Linked DNA regions of Homo sapiens: region 2 is linked to region 1. Evidence: fine-mapped expression QTL. Tissue or cell type: lung. Region 1 holds a variant in brackets; the other region holds the start of a gene. All regions are shown on one strand. Distances are between the middles of the regions.

Region 1 (5,268 bases):
AGTGATTTAGATGTGAGGCAAGGAAAGTGGTAGCCCTGTATGTCTATGACTAGTGACATATATGATTTCTTTATGATGTTTAGTCCTAAGGACAATTTCCACAGATTTACAACCTGTGCAGCTGCATGAAGCTGCATGCAGGACCTCATGCTTGCCTTAATGCTTTTACCACCTCAAAATTCTTAAAAATTTACACAAAACCATGCATTGTGGGGTTATTGTGTGTTTATTTTCTGTAGCTGCTCGGAATACTTAGGAATAGTTGAGAATGGCAAAGATCCAGGTTCACAGTGCGCTGCGATGGGAAGTCTATGGGTAGGGAGAACTCTCAGGCGTTGCTGATGGGAGTACAAAATATTAACTCCTTTGAAAGGTGGTTTGGTAATACTTATCGAAGTGACTAATACCTATAGTTCTTGGTCCAGTAAGGCTAAAGCACTATTCTGAACATTTATCCCACATATATTGCTATGTAGATATGTAATGATGTAGGTACAAGGTTGAGTAGAAGAGTAACAGGTGGGAACTAATCCAAGGGGCCAGCAATAGAGCACTGTTTAGAAAAAAAAAAAAAATGAAGACGCTGTCTATTTACCAGTAGGGAAAGACTCCAAGTTATGTTGTTAGTTGAAAACAAGAAAGTGCAGAATGGGTATGTAGTAGGCTACCTTTTGTTTTAGAAGGGAGAGGGGCAGAAATACGTGTTTATTTTTCATAATTGCGTCAAAAAATTAAAATAGACAAGAAGCTGATGAAAGTGCTTACCTGTAGGAGGCAGTGTGGATAAGTGGGGTGCATGTGGACAGGGACAGGATGCAAAGAATACTTCTTTTATATACCTGCTATGTGGTTTGGATTGTTTGACCATTTGATAGAATTACCCATTCAAAACAAACCAAAAAATGTAATTTAAAAAGGAGTGACAGTACAACTACTTTGGAAAAAGGTAAAACTTTAGAGCTAAATGTACAATTACCCTTTGACCTAGCAATCCACTCCTGGGTATTTTATCCAAGAGAAATAAAAACATATATCCACAAAATGACTTGTAAAAAAGTGTTCAGATAAGCTTTATTTACAATACTTAAAAACTAACTGAAGTATCCATCAACAAGAGAAAGAAAACAATTTGTGATACGGAATTCATACAGCAACAAAAATTAAGCAACAGCTGACTCAGGCAGCAATGTGGAAAAATTTTGCAGACATTATGCTGCATAAAAGAAGATGGACATGAACAACTATATACTGTATGAATCCATTTATAGAAGTTCAAAAACAGGCAAAATTGAAGTTAAAAATCTCAGAACTGTGGTTGTTTCTTGGAAGAGGATGGGAGAGGATTGCCTAAGAGGGAACTTTCTGGGGAGATGGAAATATTCTATATTATGATAAGGGTATGTGTTACCAGGTTTATCCGATTATCAAAATAGTACAGCTAAGATTCGTGATTTTTAATTTATGTAAATTTTACCTAAAAGGAAAAAAAAGAATAGTTACAAAAAAAAAAAAGAAGTCTGAGGTGTGGGTGGAGGTACAGATGACACAACCATGGCAAAATACTGATAATTGTTGAAGCTGGCTGATGGATAAACAGGGTTCATTGTGCAATTCTGCTTACTTTATTTATGTTTGAAATTTCCCATATTAAAAAGTTAAAGCCATAATAGAATGATCGTGGGGATTGGTCATTAGGACTAATTGGTCATTTATCACTTTGGAAGCCAAAGAGTTAGACTTTTCAGTGAGTAAGGATTAGCTAAGTAAAATAAGTGAACTTCATAGACACATGGTGGCAACAGAGCCTGGATGGAAAACAGTAGCCTAGGCCGGGCCAAGGTAACGGAAAAACAACTGCAATGAAGGCAGAGAGAGGAAGCTACCACTCAGAGGTAATGGAATCAAAATCACTGCTCCCTTCTTCTCAATGTTATTCAATACCCATCCCTAGGATTTGCCTAGCTCTGTTTGATAAAACTGCAGTAGTGACCAGTCAAGCTTTCCTGATATGCTTGAGGTTTGTTTTTTATTCTTGGACAGTATTTAATACTCTAACCTAGGAAGAGCACAGCGTATTAAGATACCATCCAAGGGTCCATAACAAGGGTCTTCTGAAAATAGGTGTGAACCTTCAAAAGATCAAAGAAAAATTATGTATAGCATTTGAGGAAAAAGTTTTTATTGATTAGTTTTAACTCTGAAGAGCCACTTAACGAGAGCATTTGAAAAGTTAAAAATTGAATACATACAATGTAATAATCAGATGTCCTTCACATCTCTGTGAGTGACTTAATGGGCTCAGGGATCCAGCGGTAATAAAAGAAGAACTTCCAGGGGAAGTTCTGAGTTTGCCAGAGGATGTGAGAAATACCCTTCCTGAGAGATATTTAAAAATCAGTTCATGACCCATCAATCTGGAAGGATTCTGAGGAAGCCTGCTGGGGTTGGGGGGAAGATTCAGTAATAAGATCAACGGACAGTCTTCCTGCCCTGAGGCTCCGAGACCCTGCAGACAGCCCGCTCACAAGTCTGTGCAGGGGACTGTGTGGCATCATGGCTTTGCATTCGTTGATTTTATCTTTTGCAAGATCCCTGGTATAATGAGATGTTTAAAACTGTTCTAAGTTTCAGTTGTTATTTTTATTCCTAAAGGGAACAAGAAAGAGAAAGAAAACAAAATCATATTTGTACAAAAGAATCTTATCTCATAATTTACAAGCAGAATATATATTTATATGTATAAATACATATATATCATTGAATACATGTGTTATGCTACTATTTTTCGCATATTGTAGCTATAAAAAACAAACCATATGTCATTACATTTATCCAACCTCTTGCTCATCTGGAAAGACTTTTTTTCTTCAAGCTTCTAAGAGTCTTTAATGTGAACCAATTAAAACATTGCAATTTTTTAAAGTCTTCTGTAAAAGGAAG[T/C]AACTTCAGCCATTAGAAAATTTAAAATTTGGAGTCTGTATACTAAGAAAATGCAGAGAATGCAAACCTGAGTTATAAATACTTTTTCTTGTTCATTATACCTTGTAGTAAGACTTACCCCCTGCCTGAAACTTACTCAGTATTGCCAATTTGTATTTTATCAGATGTATTATCAAGATATGCCCAGTGTTCTGGTGAAATTGAAATGATATAACCATAGAAGGGAGGATAATTCATAAAGCCATCTAGGCTATTACCCTATTTTAAAGCAGAGATTTATTTAATGTATTACAATTCATTGTTTGGCTATTTTATTTTTCAAACCTGGAGAATAAATTTCTACATTTCCATTTTGCAATAAATGACCAAAATAATTTATTTCTGCGGTCAGAAACATTTCTATGGCCAGAAGTATTTCATATCTGCGTTCTAGTCCTGGCTCTTACTGAAAGGTAAATCATTTCTTTGTTGCCATGTTGTCAGAAGATGTAAAAACTGACTTTTCACTTCCATCTTAATAAAAATTCTTTTCTCCTCATAAAGCACCGTCGACTAACCATAAGTCTTTTCTAAGGCTGAAGAATGATAGAGTCTCCCTTTTTTTCTTATATGTCTAGTCCATGATTGCCAGCATTCTCCTCCATAAATACTTATCAGCAAAACTCTAGAGGTCGAAGATCATGGCTTTTACACCTTTGTTTGCTTATTTATTTATTTATTTATTTATTTATTTATTTTTGAGACGGAGTCTTGTTCTGTCGCCCAGGCTGGAGTGCAGTGGCGTGATCTCGGCTCACTGCAAGCTCCGCCTCCCGAGTTCGCGCCATTCTCCTGCCTCAGCCTCCCGAGTAGCTGGGACTACAGGCGCCAGCCACCAAGCCAGGCTAAATTTTTTGTATTTTTAGTAGAGGCGGGGTTTCATCGTGTTAGCAAGGATTGTCTCGATCTCCTGACCTCATCATCTGCCCGCCTCGGCCTCCCAGTTTGTTTGCATTCTTTCCCCACAAATAATGGGCAAAACTCATAGCGGAAAAAAGGGTGATGCAAATAATATCTTAAAAATGTATTTGATTTATTAAGCATCAATTTGCCTCTAATGTTTTTATGGACACTTGTTCTAATAAATGTATTGTTGAAGACAGTTGACATTGATGAAAAGAATCAAATAAAAATTATAAATTCAGAGACACATTTGACCAAACACCCAGGGTAAAGTGTAATAGTCATTCCTTCCATTGGTTAGCACATAGCTTCAACTACTGATTAGTTCGTTACTTTTTTGATATCTCACCTGGAATTCATATACAGATTTAATTGTAGGCAAAGATTTAAAAATCATAATATGAGAGCCAGTATTTTTTACAATTCAGAAATGAGGATCAAGCCGCCTAAGAATAGAAGTAACTACCATTTCCTGAATATGTACTAAAGGCAAAGCTGAGTATATTATTCTCTAATACTCAAAATACATAACGAGTTCAATATTTTTGCCTTCATTTTACAAATAACAAGACAGGGGCTTAGAACAGGCAACCAAGTTGCTTAAAGCCATATCTGGGTCCGAATACAGGACCCCACTACTTTGTAACCTTTCTAGAGTAAGGCTTTGCAAAGTAGTCCTGGGAGGACTTGCAAAATCTCCTCAAATCAGCTTTGACTGCTGTCTAAATCTATTCAGAACTTCCAGATAGCTAAGATAGCAAGACATCTAAATGCTAAACAGTTGATGATGGAAGTATTTTTGGGCTTAGTTTTTAAAAAATGTATGATTCAGTAGTTTTTAGTATGTTCAGAATGCTGTGTCACCATTACCGTTATCTAATTTCAGAACTTTTTCATCACCCATAATAGAAACCCCATACTCATCAGCAGTCACTCCCCCTTGCCCTCTTTCCGAGCTCTTGACTACTGATCTACTTTCTCTGTATACACATTTGCCTGTTCTGTGTATTTTATATAAATGGAATCACTCAACATATAATCTTTTTTGTCTAATGTCTTTTATTTAGCATAATCTTCTCAAGGTTCATCCACGTTGTAGAAGGAATCAGTACTTCATTCTTTTTACGGTTGAAATGATTCCATTGTATGCTATTTACCACATCTAGTTTACCCATCTATCAGTAATGGACATCTGGGTGGTTTCCACTTTGGGGCCATTATGAATAATGCTGCTGGGAACATTCATGCACAAATTTTTGTCTGGACTATGTTTTTAATTCTCTTGGGTAAATACCTAGGAGTAGAATCGCTGGCTTATATGCTAACTCTATGTTTAACTTTTTGAGGAACTGCCAACTGCTTTCCAAAGCGACAGTGGAGATTCTG
Region 2 (5,000 bases), 160 kb after region 1:
ATAGGCTATAGCAAATCAATCAAATGCCCAGAAGTTTGTATGAATATACAAACAATGGATGACCCAAAAGAGAGAGAGAGAAAAAAACCATGTGAAAATCATAGAGTGGTGTAGACAAAGCCTTTGACTTTTAGTCATGGCTTTATTTGTCTACATGTCTTCCAAAACAAGACTTTTGACTTACGAGCCTGAATAAGTCACATTCAAACAGGTCAGCATTTATACACATCACAGTACATCTTCACTTATCAAAAAATAATTCATATCACATTCAATGTAAAGTCATCAGTAAAATTCGCCCTGTCAAAATGCTACCTTAAGAAAAATGAGTTTCTTCACTAACATGAAAAACTGAAACTAGCAACACATTCTTTCAATGAATTGTTTCTAAATTTTGATTCTCAAAGAATGTTGAAACTTTGATTAAAGAAAAAGGGTGTGTGTGTGTGTGTGTGTGTGTGTGTGTGTGTGATTGCAATTTACCCATTTGGGCTAAGACTAAATGGCACAAAGTGTAATGTAGGGCAAAGATTGGAAAACTTTTTCTCTAAAATGCCAGATAATAAATATTTTTGGCTTTAAGGGCACACAGTCTCCATCCAATTGCCTTTGGAGTAGAAAAGCAGCCACAAGCAATATGTAAACAAACGAGCATGACTGTGTTCCAATAAAACTTTATGAACACTGAAAATTAAAAATTGAAAAATCTGAAGACCATTCTTAGCCTGTGGGCCTGAAAAAAACAGTAGCAGGCTTGATTTAGCCCATGGGCCGTAGTTTACTAACCCCTGCTCCATGGAACTACATTAAATAAGAAAAACATTCAACACTATCACAAGCTAAATTCTTAGCTCTGCCACTGTTTTTCCTGGGAGACCTTGGACAAATTATTTAACCTGCCTCAGGTTTCTCATCTGTAAAATGGAGTTAATAACATTAGGAGCCTCAGTGGGTTACTCTGAACATGAACTGTAGTAATACATTTTGAAAATGATACCAACTGCACATAGTAAGTGTTCAATAAAAGTTACCTGTTAATACACATTACGATTCTAGAGTTAACTCCTTTTTACTTCAGTGAAAACATTAGAAAAGTAGTTCTTTTGTGTTTAAATTTTTAAAATTGTCTTAAAGTGCCTAGATGTTGTCTTCTCAAAGGAAGAAACTAGATTTGCCCAAAGAGGTCAAGCACATTTGGAAAGGGGCAAACGCACAAGGAAGCCTGCTTTGCAAAATCTGCCTAAAAGGCTAGCTCCATCTGAACAGACACCTACCCGGTTTCTGTCTTCAATTGTCAACAGTTCCTCCTCCATGCACTTATCCAAGACGTCTCTAACTAGAAGCTTGTCCACCAGAGTGGGCTGAAGGAGGTTCAGCAGTTGGAGATATTCATCATGAGCGTTCTCAAACGATGGAGAGGGCAAGTCCGTGAGCTCAGGGTTCATGTAGCGGGCGGCCAGAGGGCTGCCGGTTCTCCGGAGGGCCTCCACGAATTCCCGAGTCCAACCAAGGTGCCAGACTCCCTTCTCCAAGGTGCTCAGCAGCAGTTCAACTGCCTGCATGTTCCCGGAGGTGGCGACTGTCCTCTGAATCTGCTCCTTCACCTCTGCAGGCAGAAAGGTCAGGTAGTCCAGCACAGGCTCCACCTGGATGTACATTTTCACCCTGGCCCTGAAGCACGAGATGAGATAGCGGAAATTCTCGTCTGTGGAATACCCATTCGACATCTTTCTTTCTCAGAGAAGGGAGAGGGTTCTCCCAAGCAGATGGTGCTGTTGTCTGCGGGACAGGTGAAATGTGCGTGCCGCTGTCCGCTGCCCACTTAGAGAAGCAGGGTCTACCGCTCTGTGCCTGACAATGACGAGGTTGTCCACAGGGCTCTCAGGCCGGCGCGCGGGGCTGCACTCGCACCTGGGCAGGTGGGCAGGCGGGCAGGTGGGCAGCGGGGCGGCGCGCGGGGCCGCGGCAGGCAGGTGCGGCCGGCAGGCGCGGCACTTTGGACTCTGCGGTGTGCGCCTGGGGTCCCGGACCGGGGCGATCCTGCTGCACACTCGGGTAGGAGCTTTGAGTCCAGCTTTCTGTCAGGCAGTTCTTACAGAGTTTGCCTGACTTTGGTTTCTGTTTCGATTCTCTTCTCAGGACTTTGTAAACGTAATCTGCCTGGCGGGGAGGGAGTTTCCTCAGGGAGACGCCACCTTTTGGTCGGGGCGGGTGAAGAGAGGAGGCCTTTGGTTAAGGACACCGCGGGAAACAGAAAAGGAAAGCGAATTCTCTCTGACACCAAGACCAACGCTCTAGCAAAGCTCCTCCGGCGGATATTTTGTTTTCCCAGCAGGTTCTGCCTTAACAATAAGGTCCTTTGTAGGCCAAAATGTGCAGGGCATAAAAGCATGTGATTTGGGACTTTCCAAAGGGGAAGTGAACAGAAACTGCCACAGACCCGGACGTGAACAGGGAGTTACCCTCGGCTGGTGAATGTAGGCAGGCCTGGCTGAGGGTGGTGAGACTGCGAGGGACAGGTGAGAGATGAAGCTCAGAAGACATCTTTGCAGAGATGTGGAGAAGACAGGAGGAAGTCCTTCCTAAAATAAACCTGACCTCCTGTGGGTTCCCAAACACTAACTTGTTTCCCTGGGAATTTGGAGGTGGGTTCGAAAAAGTGAGTAACAATAAACAGTTAACTTTACTGCCTCATATTTAGATTGCTGGTATTTATGCAGCTTTGACCAGGACCTGGTAACAGATGTGGATGGACTTGAACCACCAACTCAGCTTAGAAGGAAGCCAAGACTTAAAGTTTCCTAGATCCCAGCTTGTAAGTTCCCTATATTCTTTAATATACAACTTTCCTTTAATAAAACAAAACAAAAAAATCCCCCAACAACTTATTTTTGATATAGCTGCCATTCTTTTCTTGGATTCAATACAGCAAGTTTTGGCTGGAGCAGCTAGGAACTTAATTAGCAACTAATGTACCAACTTGTAGTAAACATCAACATTTGTCTATGTCATGAGAGAAAAAAAACATATTCACACTGAAAAATGGCAGCTTCATTTTGGTACAGAAGCCACATAAATGTGAGTCCTTAAGGTTACTACTCATTCTGAAGGCATTCTGTAGCCACATGTGACTGTGGGTGGTAGGCACATACGCACCATAACTAGAATCTCATGGTCCAGAATTATATAAAGGATGGAGAGATCATTTAGGTTATCAAAGAGACATATTTAGGAAAAATAATCTGTTAGCAAAGTACATTCAATAAAGTCTGTGTAGGCCAGGAAAACCTGATAGTGCTTTGAACAGGATAATAGAAGTACAGAGTCTTGGTGAGTGTTTACTAGGGGCATACAAAATATCCAAATGAGCACTTTATGGTAACATGTCTTATTTTATTCTCTAATTATCTTATGTAGCAAGGCTTTTTCTACCCCTGAAGGATTGTAAGCTGCTTGAAGAAGGGATATATTTACATAGTAACTAGTACACTACTCACAACTGGTGGGCTCTTGATGACATCTCTCCTGGGAGTTGTATTTGAGTTGACCATAGCAGCTGGCATAATGTTAAATACACTGAAAGTTGAAGTAAATGAAACCTTGGGCTTGCAGGTAGGCCTGATTTATACTGTTCTTTTCTGTTTCTTCACAGAACCCTACTCCTTTTTCACTTAATTTTGGGAGATGACCTTGTACCCAGATAGAGGATAATCCAATTAGATGTTTCTACAAAAGCACTCAAATTATTAATTTTAAGTATTGGGTCTATGAAAATATCTTTTAAGGCTGTTGCAAAAACATACTCCTATCCCCCAGCTGCCAGTGGGTTTTATTCAACATGTTAAAGCACAAACTAACAAACCAAAAAACATTCTTTTTCCTGGCACTTATCCTTCTGTTTCTTGGTTTCAAACATGGGGGAATGAGAAGGGGTTGCTGACTGAATATGGGGAACCAGTTAATGTTATTTTCTTCATACCACTTAATTGTTGCTCTGGAAGAGAAAGGATCAAATGTTTGGTATTTGACCTGTTCTCAAATAATAAACATTTAAACCAAAGATATTTAAATATTTGGCATTCAAATTATATCATTCATTGTATCATCTAGTCATTTAAAATATGTTTATTAAGTATCTATTACATGACCAGCACTGATCTAGGTGCAGTTAATAAAATTAACAAAGCTCCTACTTTTATGGAGTTCACATTCTAATGGGAGTGGGAAGATAGATGGTAAGTAATGACTAAAAAATATGCAATGTGCAGGTGAGGATAAATGCCCTGAAGACCATAGTAAATCTACATAATAATGTATATTACAGTTTCACAGGTTGATTTCCCAAATAGTCATCCTCCTCTAACCCTATTAGCATCACATAATACCCAACAATAACAATTCATATTTTCTCACAAGTAGGAGTCTCTCTGCTGGATGAGGTCTGAGTGATGAGGATTAGGTGTGGGTGGAAGGGACTTCTTTTTTAGGAATCTCCCATAGTCTTGATGGGACCCTTTTTGGAGAAAGGAGGTTAAGGAAACAAAAGCCAAGACACAATCTCTCACAATGTATCCTTTTTTCATCTATATTTTTTGCATCATGATTTAGTTTATTTTCTGTTTTTCACTTGAGTAATTAATTGTTTTCCTCTGTCAAGTTTCTTCTACTAGGTTTCATTTTAATCCTTTTCACCAGTTCCCAAATGTAAGTTTCTTTTTCCTTTCTCTTTTGAGGCAGGAGATCCTGCTGAACTATGTATTTTCCCATTGTTATGCAACTTTTCATTTGAGTTTTTAAGAAGTAGTAACAATATGAGCTGCCACTACAATTTAACGACCATGCATAGCAATAATGTCTTTTTCAAAGAAAATGACAATAATTTTAGTTTAGTGAGAAACCCTGGAATTGTTGTTCTGTTCCTTTACTTGTTTGCTCATTTGTATCAATAATGAGCCTGCTTTGTGTAATTTAAAGTGTTAGATGCTCTTAACCTGGCAGTG

What was found. PIP is the estimated chance that this variant, and not a neighbour inherited with it, causes the effect.
Region 2: IFIH1 starts here. The variant in region 1 is fine-mapped to the expression of IFIH1 in lung (TOPMed, PIP above 0.99).

The regions. Positions count from the first base shown.
Region 1 is chr2:162,154,535-162,159,802 of GRCh38, forward strand. All of the region lies in intron 1 of LOC101929532 (a long non-coding RNA gene), which reads left to right. Among named protein-coding and RNA genes, the nearest start is that of GCG, 4.9 kb to the left of the region's middle. The variant T/C (reference allele first, on the strand shown) is at 2,941.
Region 2 is chr2:162,316,581-162,321,580 of GRCh38, forward strand. It overlaps IFIH1 (interferon induced with helicase C domain 1), which reads right to left and starts at 2,104. Exons shown (of 16, transcript NM_022168.4): 1 at 1,275-2,104. The coding sequence starts at 1,727. It also overlaps a transcript of GCA not described here. RefSeq lists a silencer at 1,899-1,988 and enhancers at 2,019-2,568, 2,137-3,336.